2 separate regions of the Homo sapiens genome follow, and region 2 is linked to region 1. Evidence: fine-mapped expression QTL. A gene starts in region 1. The other region holds a variant in brackets. All regions are shown on one strand. Distances are from middle to middle.

Region 1 (8,320 bases):
ACGGAGCAGCGCCCCCAAAACAGGGGCAAGATCGGGGCAGGGTAGAGGGCGCAGGACGTAGAGGCAGGAGAAGGTTCCAAGCCTTGCTCAGCTCTGGTTGTGCACAGGCCTCTGGTAGGCAGGGGCCTGCGTGGTGGAGTCCGTGCTCATCCCGACGGTCACCGCCTTGTTCAGTCCCCACAGCAGCCACAGGGGACCAGCTGCTTCTCCCTGAGCCACACGGCCCACTCGGCCTCCATGGTGGACTCGTGACTGGTCCCATTTTCCAGATGAGGAAACTGAGACATGAGAAGTCACAGAACTTTCTAGGTCCGAGTGACTCCAAAACCCACCCCACCCCTCCCTTTGAGCTGGGTGTCTGCCGGGCTGCTCTGGGCCGCGTGACCACTTGCCAGGAGTTGTGTCACCGCCCGTCTCAGCCTCCTTCCTCATCTGAAACAGGGCTCATAGAGCCTGCGGCGCCAGGATTGGACCCGCAGGCCACTCCACCCCACCTCTGAACGGTGCCAGAAGGTTCTCTCAGGGCCAGTAGCATCACTCTCTCCACCTGCCGCGGCAACATCCCAGCCCCCACAGAGCATCGGGCCCTGCAGAATCTGAGCCCTTCCCCACTGAGGGTGGGACCCAGGGTCTCCAGGTCTTGTGAGGCTTCACTCCTGGCCCGAAGACCCCAGACCCATCGCTGCCCCAAGGTATCTCATCTCCTGAGCCTCTGTGTCCCCATCTATGAGGTGGTGGTCGAGCCAGTGGGTTTCAGGGTGTCTTTCTGTTCTTGGAGACCTCCCTATAGGTGACCCAGAAGGCCAGGAACGGTGGCTCACACCTGTAATCTCAGCACTTTGGGAGGCTGAGGCAGGCAGATCACCTCAGGTCAGGAGTTCGAGACCAGCCTGGCCAACATGGTGAGACCCCGTCTCTACTAAAAATAAAAAACTAGCCTGGTGTGGTGGCGCACGTCTGTAATCCCAGCTACTCAGAAGGCTAAGGCAAGAGAATTGCTTGAACCCGAGAGGAGGAGGTTGCAGTGAGCCAAGATTACGCCACTGCACTCCAGCCTGGGCAACAGAGCAAGACTCTGTCTCAAAATAAATAAATAAATAAATAAAGCAAACAAAAAAAAAGAAGGCGACCCAGAAACACAATAAGGAATGTGTCCCTTCTCTGATCCCCACCCCGACCCCCAGCTGCACCCACTCCCCTGAGCCTTGTCTCTCCAACGAAGCCAGCACTGTCCCAGGGACTTGTTTTCAGGCTTTTTAAAAATGATTCATGGCTAATCGTCCTCATCGTAACCTTTGTGTGCATTTTTCATTACAAAAGTAACCAGTGAAACAGCCCACAGGTCTGGAAAAATCCACAGCGAACCTGGCCATCGAGTGGCCTGGGAGAGGGTAGGGTGAGGGTGGGGTATCCAGGGGGAATTGGTTCTGTTAAGAAAGACTACTTCCCTTTCCTTCGAGGTTCGGGGGTTAAACTTTTTTTTAGTAAAAAATAAAGAAACAGCCTGGCCGACATGGTGAAACCCATCTCTACTAAAAATATAAAAATTAGCCAGGCTGAGGCAGGAGAATCACTTCAACTCTGGAGGCGGAGGTTGCAGTGAGCCCAGCTGGAGCCACTGCACTCCAGCCTGGGCAATGGAGCGAGACACCGTCTCAAAAAATATATATATAAATAAAAATAAGAAATTAAGAATGACTTCCCTAGTGGTCTAGTGGTTAAAAAAAAAAATAAAAAAGACTACCGTTTTAAACAGAGAGCACATCCAAGCATTGTTTGCACCATCAAAAGTAAAGAAAACACAAATAAGCCGGGCGCGGTGGCTCACGCCTGTAATCCCAGCACTTTGGGAGGCCGAGGCGGGTGGATCATGAGGTCAGGAGATCGAGACCATCCTGGCTAACAAGGTGAAACCCCGTCTCTACTAAAAATACAAAAAATTAGCCGGGCGCGGTGGCAGGCGCCTGTAGTCCCAGCTACTCGGGAGGCTGAGGCAGGAGAATGGCGTGAACCCGGGAAGCGGAGCTTGCAGTGAGCCGAGATTGCGCCACTGCAGTCCGCAGTCCGGCCTGGGCGACAGAGCGAGACTCCGTCTCAAAAAAAAAAAAAAAAAAAAAAAAAAGAAAACACAAATAAGCCAGGAACAGTGGCTCATGCCTGTAATCCCAGCACTTTGGGAGGCTGAGGTGGGAGGATCGCTTGAGCCCAGGAGTTCTGCAGGAGACTGCAGTGAGCTATGATTGCATCACTGCACTCCAGCCTGCATACCAGAGTGAGACCCTGTCTCAAACAAACAAACAAAAACAAGAAAGGAAGGAAGGAAGGGGAAGAAAGAAAAAAAGAGAAAGAGAAAGGAAAGAAGGAAGGAAGGAAAGAAAGAAAGAAAGAGAAAGAAGAAAGAGAAAGAAGGGGTGGGAAGGGGAGGGGAGGGAGGGAGGAAGGAAGGACGGAAGAAAGGAAGAAAGCAAGCTAAAGTGAAAAGTAGGCTCCCTCCCTGCGAGCCCAAGCCCCTCACCCCAGCTGGAGAACCCGCTGTGAATACTTTCTGGTAGATCCAGCCAGACATCCTGCCTCACGCCAGGCACAAGTGTGTACAGACGACAGGACACAGCACATGTGCACACACACACTCCCAGGAAAGAAAGTGGTCCTCGGGGCACAGTGGAGAAGGCAGGCTGGGATCAGCCTGCACGGGTTCTGGCCCTGGCTCCACCGCGCCAGCTGCGTGACTCTGGACAAAGGCTTCTTTGGCAAGCCTCAGTTTCGCCGAACCTCCCTGTGGGGCTGCCAGCAGCCAGGTGGAGACTCAGGGGCCGCCTTCCCCTGCTGGGCTGAGGCTGGCTCTCCTGTCCTTGCCACACGGCCCCTTTCACCGCCAGTGGAAACCTGCCTCAGGCTGCCCTGTCCCGGGCCCCACCGACTCCACAGAGACGCCGGGCCTCGCCCACTGTTCTGGCAGTAGGCCTTCATGGGCAGGGCTTGCTGTGTGCCAGGCAAGCTGGGCGGCTGCTTCCTGTACACCACCTCCCCTGATATCCTCGCCCTGCCTGAGCCCATTCTGGGACAGCCTCAAGTCCTGTCTCTCCTGCCATCCAGCCCAGGGCACGCTGCTGGTATCCCGTAGCCCTGGCCCCTGGCAGGCTGGCCAGAGGGGCTCCAGGCCCACGCCAGGCCATGGCCTCTGGCAGCTGCCCTGGCCAGCAGCGCGTTCACAGCAGGAAGCCCCCGCTTCTCCTACCTGGGCTCCGGCTTCTTTGCAAGGGGTAGGGGAAGCAGACAGGTCCCAGAGGCTGCTCGGCTCACAGTAAGACCCGTCTAGGCTGCAACGCACCTGAGCCCCGCACTGGGAATCGAGGGCCAGGGGGCCTCTAACCGGCTTTGGGCAAAATAAACTTCCCCGATCTGGACTGTTCTCCACTACGAAACGGGGTGTCTCGGAGATCAAGAGCCCGAGGTCTCCCAGATATTCTGAGACCCTCAAGGGAGTTCCGCCTGGGATTGCCCATCCGCGGAATGGGCAGGAGAGGGAGCGTCGGCCACTCCTGGGACCGCGCTTCCTGCAGGAGAAGCCACGCGGCCAAGGGCTGGGCGTGGCAGGGTTGTCCAAGTTTTCCCTCCCGAACCCCCAGCCGGAGGCGGCCCGCGCTGGAACCCCGGCCGCGGAGGCCCAGACTCTGCTGCCCGCCGCCCCCTGACCCGGTAGCCGAGCCCCAAGTGCTGCCCCGGGTCGCCCCCTCGGGTGTCCAGTCTGCGGCTCCGGCCTCAGTTTCCCTCTGTCCCGCGGCGCTGCCAAGAGTCGCAGCCATGCGGGCCCCCACTTCCCGCTGCCCCCTCCGCGTCCCGTCCTCACTCACCAGCGGCGAGGGCACGCTCCGGGAAGGGCACTGCCTGGCAGGAGTTAGCCAGGCCGCTGTCCCCGCATCCGCCCCGCCCCTCCCAGCCGCCAGGCCCCGCCCCTCTCAGTCGCCCGGCCCCGCCCCGCCCCGCCTGGCAGCCCGGGCACTGGGCCCACTCGCGTCCCCGCGGGACCGGGAGCTCACTCCTCAAAGCCACCTCTCCCGCGGGACGCGCTTCTGCCTCCCCCCGGCCGCGAGCAAGTCTCTCGGCTCCTCCTCCTCCCCATGGTGACCGGTGACGGCCGCCCGGCCAGACCCAACATCTAAAACGTTGCCGTGTGTCCAACGGCGTGTCGTTTGTCGTCTCTTCTAGCCTCACTTTTCCCATCTATAAAATGCAGCAACAAGACCGATCTCCGAGTGGGGAATTACCTCTCCTGAGGCCAAGGCCCTGAGCGTCCTGCTGCCCAGCAGCCTTGGCCCCATTTCCGGAGCACCCCAGTTCCTTGAGCTGTTGACGCAGGGCACGGAGGCAGCGCGCTGCACTCTTAGTCCTGGCCCAGCCACTTTCTGACTGGCTCTCTGGGCCTCCATCTCCTCATCTGTAAAATGGGCACAAAGTCGTGGGACTGATGAGGCCGCAACGCGGTGATGCAGGCAGGACACCCCTCAGATGCTCGGCGCTCAGTGAGGGGAGGCTGCCATCATCACAGCCCAGAGGTGGCCTCCAGCTGCCCAGGTCCACTCCCATGCAGGGTGTGTCCAGCCCCAGGCCCTTGGCACTATGGCTGTCTTGCTGCAGTTCAAGGCTGTCCCAGCTCCCTCCAGACAACTCAGCCTGGCAACGCCCCATCAGCCTGAACCAGCCACGTTGGCCCAAACTGATCCTGCAGGGTCCAAGGAGAACTGTGGCTACTTCTACCCAGACACAGAAGCCAGGAGCCTCCTTGGGGACCAGCCAGGCTGCAGTATGGCTTTCCTAGGACCTGGCATTTTTGCCTTTGTGAGCCTCTTCCTCTATTAAAAAACAAACATACATAAATCTATTTTTTACTGTGTTGGCCTGAAGACAAGGATAACCCAGGCTTGGTTCCATTCTTCATTCATCTTTTTCTTCTGGGTTTCTTTTTTTTTTTTTTTGAGACGGAGTTTCGCTCTTGTCTCCTAGGCTAGAGTACAATGGCACAATCTCGGCTCACTGCAACCTCTGCCTCCTGGGTTCAAGTGATTCTCTCCTCCCTCAGCCTCCCGGTAGCTGGGATTACAGGCGCCTGCCACCATGCCCGGCTAATTTTTGTATTTTTAGTAGAGATGGGGTTTCACCATGTTGGCCAGGCTAGTCTCGAACTCCTGACCTGAAGTGATCCACTGCCTCGGCCTCCTAAAGTGCTAGGATTACAGGCGTGAGCCACCGCACCTGGCAGCTTTGTTTTTTTTTTTTTTTTTCTTTTTTAAAATTCCTTCTGGCCAGGCACGGTGGCTCATGCCTGTAATCCCAGCACTTTGGGAGGCCGAGGTGGGTGGATCACTAGGTCAGGAGTTCGAGACCAGCCTGGCCAACATGGTGAAACCCCATCTCTACTAAAAATACAAAAATTAGCTGGGCATGGTGGTGTGTGCCTGTAATCCCAGCTACTTGGAAGGCTAAGGCAGGAGAATCTCTTGAACCCAGGAGGCAGAGGTTGCAGTGAGCTGAGACGGTGCCACTGCACTCCAGCTTGGTGACAGAGCGAGACTCCGTCTCAAAAAAAAAAAAAAAAAATCCCTTCTTAGCCGGGCGTGGTGGCTCACACCTGTAATCCCAGCACTTTGTGAGGCCGAGGCCGGTGGATCACCTGAGGTCAGCAGTTCGCCACCAGCCTAACCAACATGGTGAAACCCAGTCTCTACTAAAAATACAAAAATTAGCTGGGCATGGTGGCAGGCGCCTGTAATCCCAGCTACTCAGGAGGCTGACACAGGAGAATCGCTTGAACCGGGAGGTGGAGGTTTCAGTGAGCCAAGATCACGCCATTGCACTCCAGCTTGGGTGACACAGTGAGACTCTTTCTCAAAAAAACAAAACAAAAAATAAAATAAAATAAAAATAAGACACACATGTGGCTGGTTGCAGTGGCTCACGCCTGTAATCCTAGCACTTCGGGAGGCCGAGGCAGGCAGATCACTTCAGGTCAGGAGTTGGAGACCAACCTGGCCAACACGGTGAAACCCCATCTCTACTAAAAATACAAAAATTAGCTGGGCGTTGTGGCGGGCACCTTTAATCCCAGCTACTCGGGAGGCTGAAGCATGAGAATCACTTTAACCCGGGAGGTGGAGGCTGCAGTGAGTCGTGATCACACCTCTGCACTCCAGCCTGGGTGATAAAGCAAAACTCAATTTAAAAAAAAAAAAAAAAACCACACACGTGTACACATTACAACAATAATACCAGGTGTGCCCATTCCCCAGTTATGACCAGAACATTACGAGAGTCCTAGGAGCGCCCTGGTGACCTCCCCAGCGATTCCTCCCCTCCCCAGAGATCACCTTTACTTTGACTTGGGTTGATCACGCCCTTGCTTTCCTTTAGGGTTTTATGAATCCCACCCGGGTGTGTTTCCCTGAGTACTATGTGTGCAGAGAGGCAGCACACCCCCAGCTGGGGCAGAACAGGCACCATGGCCAGGCCAGAAGACTCCCGGGAAGATAAACTCAGCTGAGCGCCTGGGGTACAGGCTGGGCCCGGCCTCTGTGGGCACTGACAAGAGGCCCCTCTGGGGCAGGCAGAGGGCATGGTTGTGGGTGGGGCTCCCCTGTGAGGACGTTGAGCACAGCTGTGGCATGCGCATTCAGCAGGAAATGGTCAGGGGCATGAGCTGTTCTGTCTCTTGCTTCTGAGCTCACAGTGCCCTGAGGAGTAGGGTGCTCAGACCTCAGGAGCAAGGTGAGGCCTGTCAGGTGAGCCATGTGTCCTCAGCAGACCCAGGCAGCAGGGCGAGAACAGGGCTTCCTCAGCCTGTGATAGGGACCAGTCAGGTGCAGGCAAGATTCTGGGCCAGCGTCAGGTGCAATGGCTCAAGCCTGTAATCTCAGCACTTTGGGAGGCCGAGGTGGGCGGATCACGAGGTCAGGAGATCAAGACAATCCTGGCTAACACGGTGAAACCCCGTCTCTACTAAAAATACAAAAAAATAGCAGGGTGTGGTGGCGGGCACCTGTAATCCCAGCTACTCGGGAGGCTGAGGCAGGAGAATGCTTGAACCCGGGAGGTGGAGGTTGCAGTGAGCCGAGATCATGCCACTGCACTCCAGCCTGGGCAACAGAGTGAGACTCTGTCTCAAAAAAAAAAAAAGAATCTGGGCCAAGCTTGTGGGGCATTCTGTACCTAAATGAGCAGCATGGCAGTAGGGATGTTGGTAATGCCAGCTCTCAACACATCTCAAGTCACGCTGCTCCCCGCTGGACAGGCTGCACAGGTCCAGTACACACACCATGCCCGGGTCTTTCTTCACCACCTCCGCCCCCTCCTGCATGGGTCCTTATTTCCTGGATTTCACATCTTCCTCTTTCTTGGTCCCCCCTTGCTTGTGTTGAGCCTATCCTCCAGGAGTTCTTGAGAAAGACTGCCCGGAAGGTAACATTGCTGAATTCTTGCATCCTACCCCATAGATGGCTGATGCTTGGCTGAGCTGCAGATCGTTGTCCTTCAGAATCATGAAGAGATGCTGTTGGCCAGCTGCCACACTGCGGTTGAGCAGGCTAAAGCCATTCTGTTTCGGAAGTCTTTGGTTGTTTTTTGTTTTGTTTTTATTTTTTTGTAGACACAGGGTCGCGCTATGTTGCTCAGACAAGTTTCCAACTCCTGGGCTCAAGCAATCCTGCTCCGGCCACGCTGTGGATCCTTTATATGTAACCGATTTTGTTCTTCCTGGAAAGTTTTTAAGATTTTGGGCCCCAGAGTTCTGCAGTTTCACACTGATATTCCCCTATGTGGGACTAATTTTTTTTTTTTTTTTTTTTTTTGAGACCATCTCACTCTGTAATCCAGGCTGGAGTGCAGTGGTACGATCTCGGCTCACTGCAACCTCTGCCTCCCGGGCTCAAGCAATTCTCCCTCAGCCTCCCGAGTACCTGGGACTACAGGCGAGCTCCAACACACCCAGCTTCATTTCCTCCACTGTGCCTGCACTCAACAGGCACTTTCCCGCTGGAAGCTCATTCTTTACTTTTCAGAAGTTGGATTATTTCTTTGATTTCCTTCCCTCTATTTTCTCACTTCTCTTTCTTTTCAAATTTATGTTGTGCAGCAATCACTTCCTTTCTGGAACTCCTATTACTCAGAATGTAGGGCCTCTAGGGCTGTTTTTCTAACTTCCTTTTTCTCTCTCTCTTTTTTTTTTTTTTTTTTTTTTTTTGAGACAGAGTCTCACTCTATTGCCCAGGCTGGAGTGCAGTGGCATAATCTTGGCTTACTGCAACCTCTGCCTCCCGAGTTCAAGGGA
Region 2 (8,320 bases), 25 kb before region 1:
CCCTTCCCTGAGCTCAAAGACGACTCCCCCGACCCCCCCATTACCCTCAAACCCATATACACCCCTACGGGTGCTGGGCTGAGTGCCTTGTTACCAAACGCCCTTTTACCACGAGTGTTCACGCTGTGTTACCCAGGCCTGTGTCCTGGTCTGCAAAGGCAGGGCTGCTGTCCCGGAGCCCCTAGCTTAGCTAAAGGGCCTGGGGTACATGTGAGAGGGCCTCCAAGATCAGAGAAATGGCTGTGGGCTGGTGGTCGATGTCTGGGTTCCGGAAGGGAGTTCCGGTGGGTGGATGGGTGAGCGAGAGGTGCCATATGTGCTCTGTCTGCAGACAGCTGAGGAGAAGATGCCGGTGTGGTATATCATGGACGAGTTCGGTTCGCGGATCCAGCACGCGGACGTGCCCAGCTTCGCCACGGCACCCTTCTTCTACATGCCGCAGCAGGTGGCCTACACGCTGCTGTGGCCCCTGAGGGACCTGGACACTGGCGGTAAGTCCAGCACCTGCCCGCCCTGGAGGAGGGGCCTCAGCCCAGTGTCCCGTCACCCCCTCTGATGGGCACTCATGTCTTGGCACAGAGGAGGTGACCCGAGACTTTGCCTACGGAGAGACGGACCCCCTGATCCGGAAGTGCATGCTGCTGCCCTGGGCCCCCACCGACATGCTGGACCTCAGCTCTTGCACACCCGAGCCGCCCGCCGAGCACTACCAGGTGCAGCCCTCCTCCACCCACCAGGCCTGTCTGCTTGGTAGCTTCCAGAATGTTCTCTGTGCACACACCAAATGTTATCAAACCCCAGCCGGGTGCCAGGCCCTGAGCCAGTTACCGTGGGAGGCATAGAGTTTTGGGAGCCTCTGAGAGACGAGGGGCTCAGAGAGTGAACACAAGCTGCCTGTGGCTGCACGGTGGGGGCTCCAGATCCCAGGGTGCCTGGTGCTGGCATCCGTCCTCAGGGGGTCCACGCTGCTCCCTTGGGAAGGAGGGGGCTGTGCAGTTGGTCTTGGCCATGAGCCCCACTCAGCCCCCTGTCCTCATCTCACCGAGGCATGGAAACACCCTGTGTTCACACATCGCGTGCCTCCCTCCCTCTGCAGGCCTGCGAGTTACCATCATGGTCACTGTTATTGATAACAAAGGTGCTTTCAGTCTTGGTCAGGGCCCCGAGGGACCCAGCTGGCCCACTCGGTAGTGCCTGGCTGGAGGTAAGAGCTCATCCAGGCCCCATACAAGGAGGCTGGCGGGTTAGGGAGTCGGAGTTGTCGAGGCCCCAGTGCCGGGGGAGGAAGAGGAGCCTGTGGGAGCGTAGCCACCTCCAGAACCAGTCAGGGCTGGGTAGGAGGTTCCTACCCTGACCCATCTCTCCTCCTTCCCCTCCTCTCCCATCTGCTGCTGCTTCCGTAGGCTGGAACCAGCCTACAAGGGAGCCTGTGCTTAGTACTTTGTGGGCGTGTGCCACTCAGTTCCTTACAATTTTACAGTTCTGTTTTTATCTTCATTTTACTGAGGATGAGGACATTGAGACACAGAGAGGTTAAGTCATTTGCCAGGGGTCACACAGCAGGGGGAAGAGCTGGAGTCCAGCTGAGGCTGCAGGCTTGCCCCCACGGCGACTGAAGTCATCCTTTTTGCACACCAGGCGCTCACTAAGTGCCTCGGAGGGTTTCGGGAAGGGTTAGACGAGTTGACCCATGTGAGAGTGGGCGCGTGGAGGCTGGGCGTGGGGGCTCATGCCTGTAATCCCAGCACTTTGGGAGGCTGAGGCGGGCGGATCACAAGATCAGGAGATCGAGACCATCCTGGCCAACACGGTGAAACCCCGTCTCTACTAAAAATATAAAAAATTAGCTGGGCGTGGTGGCGGGCACCTGTAGTCCCAGCTACTCGGGAGGCTGAGGCAGGAGAATGGTGTGAACCCAGGAGGCGGAGCTTGCAGTGAGCCGAGATCGCGCCACTGCACTCCAGCCTGAGAAACAGAGCGAGACTCCGTCTCAAAAAAAAAAAAAAAATAGAGCGGGCGTGTGTGGAGTGGTGGCGTGTTTGTGTGGGCGCTGCTGATTGCAGGGGTGGGCTGTGGGTGGGGGGGCCTCCTTTCACTTTCGGTCTAAGTCAGTGGTGATTGAACCAACCATGCCAAAAACAAGGGGCTCAGTCTTGTTGGTTCAAAGGGTGCTTACAAGCCTCCCAGAGCCCCTGCACCAGGAAGGTGCTTAGTACACGTTTGTCTGAAAAAGTGAATGCCTTCGTGGATGCAACTGGAGGGACAAACACTTCCTGGTCTCGGGTTTGTTTGTTAATGGAACATGAACTAAAGTTTGTGTTTTTCCTTGGGAAGCTCTGGGCTGACCAGGAAGAGGAGGAGATACAAGGCCACGCATCCTTGTTTTTTCCCATTTGACCCTTTACAATCAGGTCTGTGCTCTGGGCCCAGGGTTGCCTATGTTGATTAGCTATGGCTGGGTAACAAGTAACTCCAAAACTTAGCACCTTAAAACAGTAAACATTTATTATCTCACACGATTTCTGTGGGACAGGAGTTCAGGAGTGGCTCAACGGGGTGCCTCTGGCCTCAAGTCTCCCTTGAGGTACACAGGCCGCCCGTCGGGCTGTGGACCCGCTTCTGCATGGCATATGTGCATGCCTGCTGTGTTGGTGCTGACTGTTGGCAGCAGGCCTGGGCTCCCTGCCTTGTGGGCCTCTCCATAAGAGTGCTCAGGTGTCCTCAGGATGTGGCACCTGATTTCTCCCAGAGCAAGTGATCCGAGGGAGAGAGCAGAGAGGAAGCCTCAGGCTTCATGGCCTTGTTGCAGAAGCAACCCTGTCCCTTCCACCTTTTTCCTGCTCATTAGAAGCAACTCATTAGGCCCATCCCACCCTCAGAGATGGATGCGGCTCTGCCTTTGGAAGATAGTGTCAAAGAGTTTGTAGGCATGTTTTAATCTTTTTTTTTTTTTAATTTTTTAAAAAAGATAGGGTCTTGCTTTTGTCCAGGCTAGAGTACAGTGGCATGATCCTAGCTAACTGCCATTTCCAATTCCTGGGCTCAGGCAATCCTCCTGCCTCAGCCTCCCGAGTAGCTGGGATTCCAGGCAACTGCTACCAAGCCCCGCTAATTATTCAACTTTTCTGTAGAGACGGGGTCTCACTATGTTGCCCAGGCTGGTCCTACACACCTGGGCTCAGGTACTCCTCCACCTCAGCTTCCCAAAGTGCAGGGATTACTGGCTTGAGCCACCATGTGCAGCCACGTGGGCATGTTTTAAATCATCACACTGCAGAAGCTCCCGACAGCCCTCGTGGCTCCTAGGACAAAGCGGCTCCTCTCAGGAGGGGTTTGGCACCTTCTCGCCCCCTGCGATTTTGAGGTAGCACCGAGAAGATGTGCAACAATGTTTACCTTGTTCTTTTGACACCAAACTAGGACTGTTCGGCATCCGAGGGGCCTGGAGCCCCAGAATCCTGGGGTGAGGGGGGTGGTTAGAGGCTTTGGGGTGTTGGGAGGGAGGAGCAGCCATGCGCCCCTTGAGGCCATAGAACCTGATGCCAGGTGGTGAGGCTTGTGTCCCCTCCTTCTTTTCCTTTTTTTTTTTTTTTTTTTTTTT[TG/G]AGATGTAGTCTCACACTCTCTCCCAGGCTGGAGTGCAGTGGCGCAATCTCGGCTCACTACAACCTCCGCCTCCCGGGTTCAAGCGATTCTCCTGCCTCAGCCTCCCGAGTAGCTGGAATTACAGGCACGCGCCACCATGCCTGGCTAATTTTTATATTCTTAGTAGAGTGGGGATTTTGCCATGTTGGCCAGGCTGGTCTCGAGCTCCTGACATCACGTGATCCACCTGCCTCACCCTCTCAAAGTGCTGGGATTATGGACATGAGCCACCACGGCCGGCCTTTCCCTCCCTTCCTTGACCTCATCTCTACTTCCGGTGTGTTTCCTTTTAGGCCATTCTGGAGGAAAACAAGGAGAAGCTGCCACTTGACATCAACCCCGTGGTGCACCCCCACGGCCACATCTTCAAGTGCGTAGCCCCCCCCCACTGCTTGGGCTGGGACTTGTCCGCAGTCCCCGCCTCCCATGCTTCGTGGTTCCCACAGCCCCAGAACAGTGCTTGGCACGTGGCACGCAGCAAGTCAGCCGCATCCTGTCTGGGCACAGCAGTGACACGTGCAGGGAGTGGAGTTCTTGGGACCCCAGAGAAAATGCCGCAGAAAGTGAGAGAGCGAGCAGGGCTTTCTGGAGATTTTTTTTTTTTTGAGACAGAGTCTGTCTCTGTCACCCAGGCTGGAGTGCAGTGGCACGATCTAAGCTCACTGCAACCTCCACCTCCCAGGTTTCACACCTCACCTATGAGGCCAGGCATAGTGGTTCATGCCTGTAATCCCAGCACTTTGGGAGGCCAAACCAGGCAGATCGCCTGAGATCGGGAGTTCAACACCAGCCTGGCCAGCATGGTGAAAGCCCGTCTCTACTAAAAATACAAAAAAAAAAAAAAAAAAAATTAGTAGGGCATGGTGGCTGGCGCCTGTAATCACAGCTACTCGGGAGGCCAAGGAGGAAGAAGAATCACTTGAAACCTGGGAGGCAGAGCCTGCAGTGAACTGAGATCGGGCCACTGCACTCCAGCCTGGGCTACAGAGCAAGACTCCTTAAAAAAAAATAAAATAAATTCATCTTTGAAAGTTAAAAATAGGAATAGGCCATGGAAATGCTGGCAGTGAGTGGGTAAAGGGCCCCCTGGGCAGAAGCGTTGGCCACCACTGGTCCCCATCCCACCCCTGTCCTCTGGGCACCAAGGGGTCCTGTTACCAACCTTGCATGTCATGGGGCTGCTCCGCTTACCTGGATACGATGCTCATCCAGTCCTGGAAACCGACACTAGCCAGGCCTGTGCATGCCAGCCCTCCCCACAGCAGGGAGCCTTTGCTGGCCAGGAACATGCTGGGCACCCACAACAGGCACCCGGGCTGCCAGTAGGGGCCCCTCCCAGGAGGCTGCAGGTGTGGCTGTTGAGTTAAGGAAAGCCAGGCCGGCAGGTCCAGGCGGGACACCTTGCAGAAGCAGGCACAGGTGAGGACCCAGAGATGCAGAGCAGATTCCACCTCAGCCTTCACAGGAGCCCCTCCCTGAGGCTCCCAGACACTCCCCTTGGCTGCCCAAACCTGGTCTAGCCAAGAACAGGCAGGCTGCTCCACTCTGCCCCCTCCACCGGGCCTGAGGGCTTTCCTCCCTGCTGGCCTCTGCCCCAGCTGGGCAGCCCAGGGGCTCTTGCTGAGACGTGAGTCTTGTGGTGACCTGGCCAGGGCCTAAGGTCCCTCCACCTCCTCTGGGGCAGAGGCCTCACGGAGGCCCTTGGTGTGCCTGTCTGAGATTGGTGGCCCCAGCCTCATCCTCTTGTTTTGCATGTGAGAGGAAAGAACTAGCACATAATAAACACCCAAATTATGCCATTTAATTTTAATGACAAATGTGAGGTGGACGGTGTGGTCCAGTCCTGCGGATGGGGAACCAGGGGTCACAAGGGTACAGGTTGCGCCCCTCCCTCAGCAGATTGGAGGGAGCGGGGTCTGAACCCGGGCTGTCCAGCATCATGACTCGAACCCAGGACTTGCCTCTGCCTCATTAGCTTCAAAACAGGGAAGGGAGTCCCTGAGCCAGGGCTAGTGCTGGAGTCCCGCTTGGACACTTGGGAGCCGGGATCACCCAGCTCGGGCTCTCCCCACAGGGTCTACACGGACGTGCAGCAGGTGGCCAGCAGCCTCACCCACCCGCGCTTCACCCTCACCCAGAGTGAGGCGGACGCCGACATCCTCTTCAACTTCTCACACTTCAAGGACTACAGGTGAGGGCACCTCTGGCCGCAGGGGCCCTCCCAGTCAGGGCTTCTAGGCACTGCCGGCCTCCCCTTGAGCTGGCGCACCTGCCTCCGCCCTGCAGGAAACTCAGCCAGGAGAGGCCAGGCGTGCTGCTGAACCAGTTCCCCTGCGAGAACCTGCTGACTGTCAAGGACTGCCTGGCCTCCATCGCGCGCCGGGCAGGTGGCCCCGAGGGCCCACCCTGGCTGCCCCGAACCTTCAACCTGCGCACTGAGCTGCCCCAGTTTGTCAGCTACTTCCAGCAGCGGGAAAGGTGGTAAGTCCCAGACACGGCATCGGTGTGCTCCATGGCCCTTTTCCCCGGCCCAGCGTCTGTGTCCGCCTGCTCCTCCATGAGCACCCACTGTGGAAACCGTGGTGCAGGAGCCGAGCTGTGGGCCCCGAACGTCACGGCCGTCTTCACGGACCGCAGGACCTCTCCAGGTTTTTGCTGGGGCTGTCCTCTCCACCGCAGCGCAGCTGCCTGGCCTCTGGCAAACCCCTCCTTGTTTCCCATGCCCCTGCCTCTGACAGCTCTCTGGTGCCCCCTCAGCTCCCAAGGAGAAGTGGGCTGCCCTCTTCTGCCTCTGGGTCCTGGGGTGGCACCATCTGGGAACACAGGCCCCAGGCGCCCCCCAGACAGCCCTTCTGCTCCCCAGGGGCGAGGACAACCACTGGATCTGCAAGCCCTGGAACCTGGCGCGCAGCCTGGACACCCACGTCACCAAGAGCCTGCACAGCATCATCCGGCACCGAGAGAGCACCCCCAAGGTGGGCCCCGCAGACCAGGAGCCCCAGGGCTCAGGGCCCTGGCTGGACAGTGAGAGGTGGGGCTAAGGGGACCGAGCATCATGGTCCTTATGGACAGGTCCAGGCTGGGCAGGGTGGCTTACACCTGTAATCTCAGCACTCTGGGAAGTGGAGGAGGATCACTTGAGCCCAGAAGTTTGGAACCAACCTGAGCAACATAGGGAGACCTCGTTTCTACAAGGGAAAAAACTTTAAAAATTATCTGGGCATGTTGGCACACACCTGTAGTCCCAGCTTCTCAGGAGGCTAAGGCAGGAGGATCACTTGAGCCCGGGAGGTTGAGGCTGCAGTGAGCTGTGATCGCGTCACTGCACTCCGCCCTGGGCGACAGAGCAAGACCCAGTCTTTAAAAAAAGAACTGTCCTGGGTGCGTCTAATCGCAAAGTTCCTACCACATAGTGTGCCAGGTATGGCTGCCCAGCAGGGTGAGGTGGCTGAGCCTGGACAAGGAGCCTCTCAGAGCCGTGGTAAAGATTCATAGTGAGGGGACATCCAGAAGCAGTATTGGGATTGCAGGACACAGGATCTGCCTGGACTGTGTACATAGTCAGAGGCTGGCGGGAAATGCATCATGAGGACGATTGTCGTGGAGACTTCAGGCCATGGGATGGGGGTGGATGGAATTATGGGTGAGAATTTATATTTCATTTCAATTAAAAATGGATATAAAGACTTTGCTTCAGGGTGCGGTGGCTCACACCTGTAATCCCAGCACTTTGGGAGGCCAAGGTGGGCGGATCACCTGAGGTCAAGAGTTCGAAACCAGCCTGGCCAACATGGAGAAACCCCTTCTCTACTAAAAATACAGAAATTAGCTGGGGGTGGTGGCGGGCACCTGTAATCCCAGCTACTCAGGAGGCTGAGGCAGGAGAATCGCTTGAACCCGGGAGGCAGAGGTTGCAGTGAGCCAACATTGTGCCACCGCACTCCAGCTTGGGCAACAGAACAAAACTCTGTCTCAAAAAAAAAAAAAAGACTTTGCAGCAACTTAGGCAGGTTTGAAAAGGCAGAAGGAGGAGTAAAGTGCAGCCATGTCTGTGCCCCCTGCGTGGCTTTGTGTGCTCGGGAGCCCCAGGGGGCTCTGTCCTGGCCACCAGCGAGCTTGCACCTGTGTCCTCCAGGTTGTGTCCAAGTACATCGAAAGTCCCGTGTTGTTCCTTCGAGAAGACGTGGGAAAGGTCAAGTTCGACATCCGCTACATCGTGCTGCTGCGGTCAGTGAGGCCCCTACGGTTGTTCGTGTATGATGTGTTCTGGCTGCGGTTCTCCAACCGGTAAGTGGAGGGCCGGCTGGGTCCAGGGTCGGGGAGCTGGGTGACCGGGTGGAGGTAGCGGGTGGGTGATGGGCCCTTTTTGGAATCAGAAAATGTTGTTGGAAGGCACCCTCCATCACTCACCCAGCTAGCGGCCCTTGGAGCCCATCTCCCTTGGTGTTAATTGGCGGTGACTTGCCCTGCCCACCTCAGAGTTCTGGTGTTGCCCACAGTAATGGATGTGAACATTCTTTGTAAAATGGGCACCAACATGAGAACCAGGTGCCATTTTTATGGACCTGCAGAGGCTTCACAGCTAGCACCTCACTCACCTCCACCCCAGCTCAGTGGGGCTGTGGGGCTCCCCCAGCCACACAGACAAGGGAACAGGCTCCCGCCTGAGCAGCAGGTG

Evidence for each region. PIP is the estimated chance that this variant, and not a neighbour inherited with it, causes the effect.
Region 2: its variant is fine-mapped to the expression of TSPO in whole blood (INTERVAL, PIP above 0.99).

Annotation. Positions count from the first base shown.
Region 1 is chr22:43,147,139-43,155,458 of GRCh38, reverse strand. It overlaps TSPO (translocator protein), which reads right to left and starts at 3,900. Exons shown (of 4, transcript NM_000714.6): 1 at 3,855-3,900. RefSeq lists enhancers at 3,208-3,307, 7,358-7,567 and a silencer at 3,929-4,148.
Region 2 is chr22:43,172,012-43,180,331 of GRCh38, reverse strand. It overlaps TTLL12 (tubulin tyrosine ligase like 12), which reads left to right. Exons shown (of 14, transcript NM_015140.4): 4 at 332-491; 5 at 580-713; 6 at 3,936-4,012; 7 at 5,717-5,833; 8 at 5,929-6,123; 9 at 6,506-6,617; 10 at 7,778-7,929. Among named protein-coding and RNA genes, the nearest start is that of TTLL12, 11 kb to the left of the region's middle. The variant TG/G (reference allele first, on the strand shown) is at 3,602.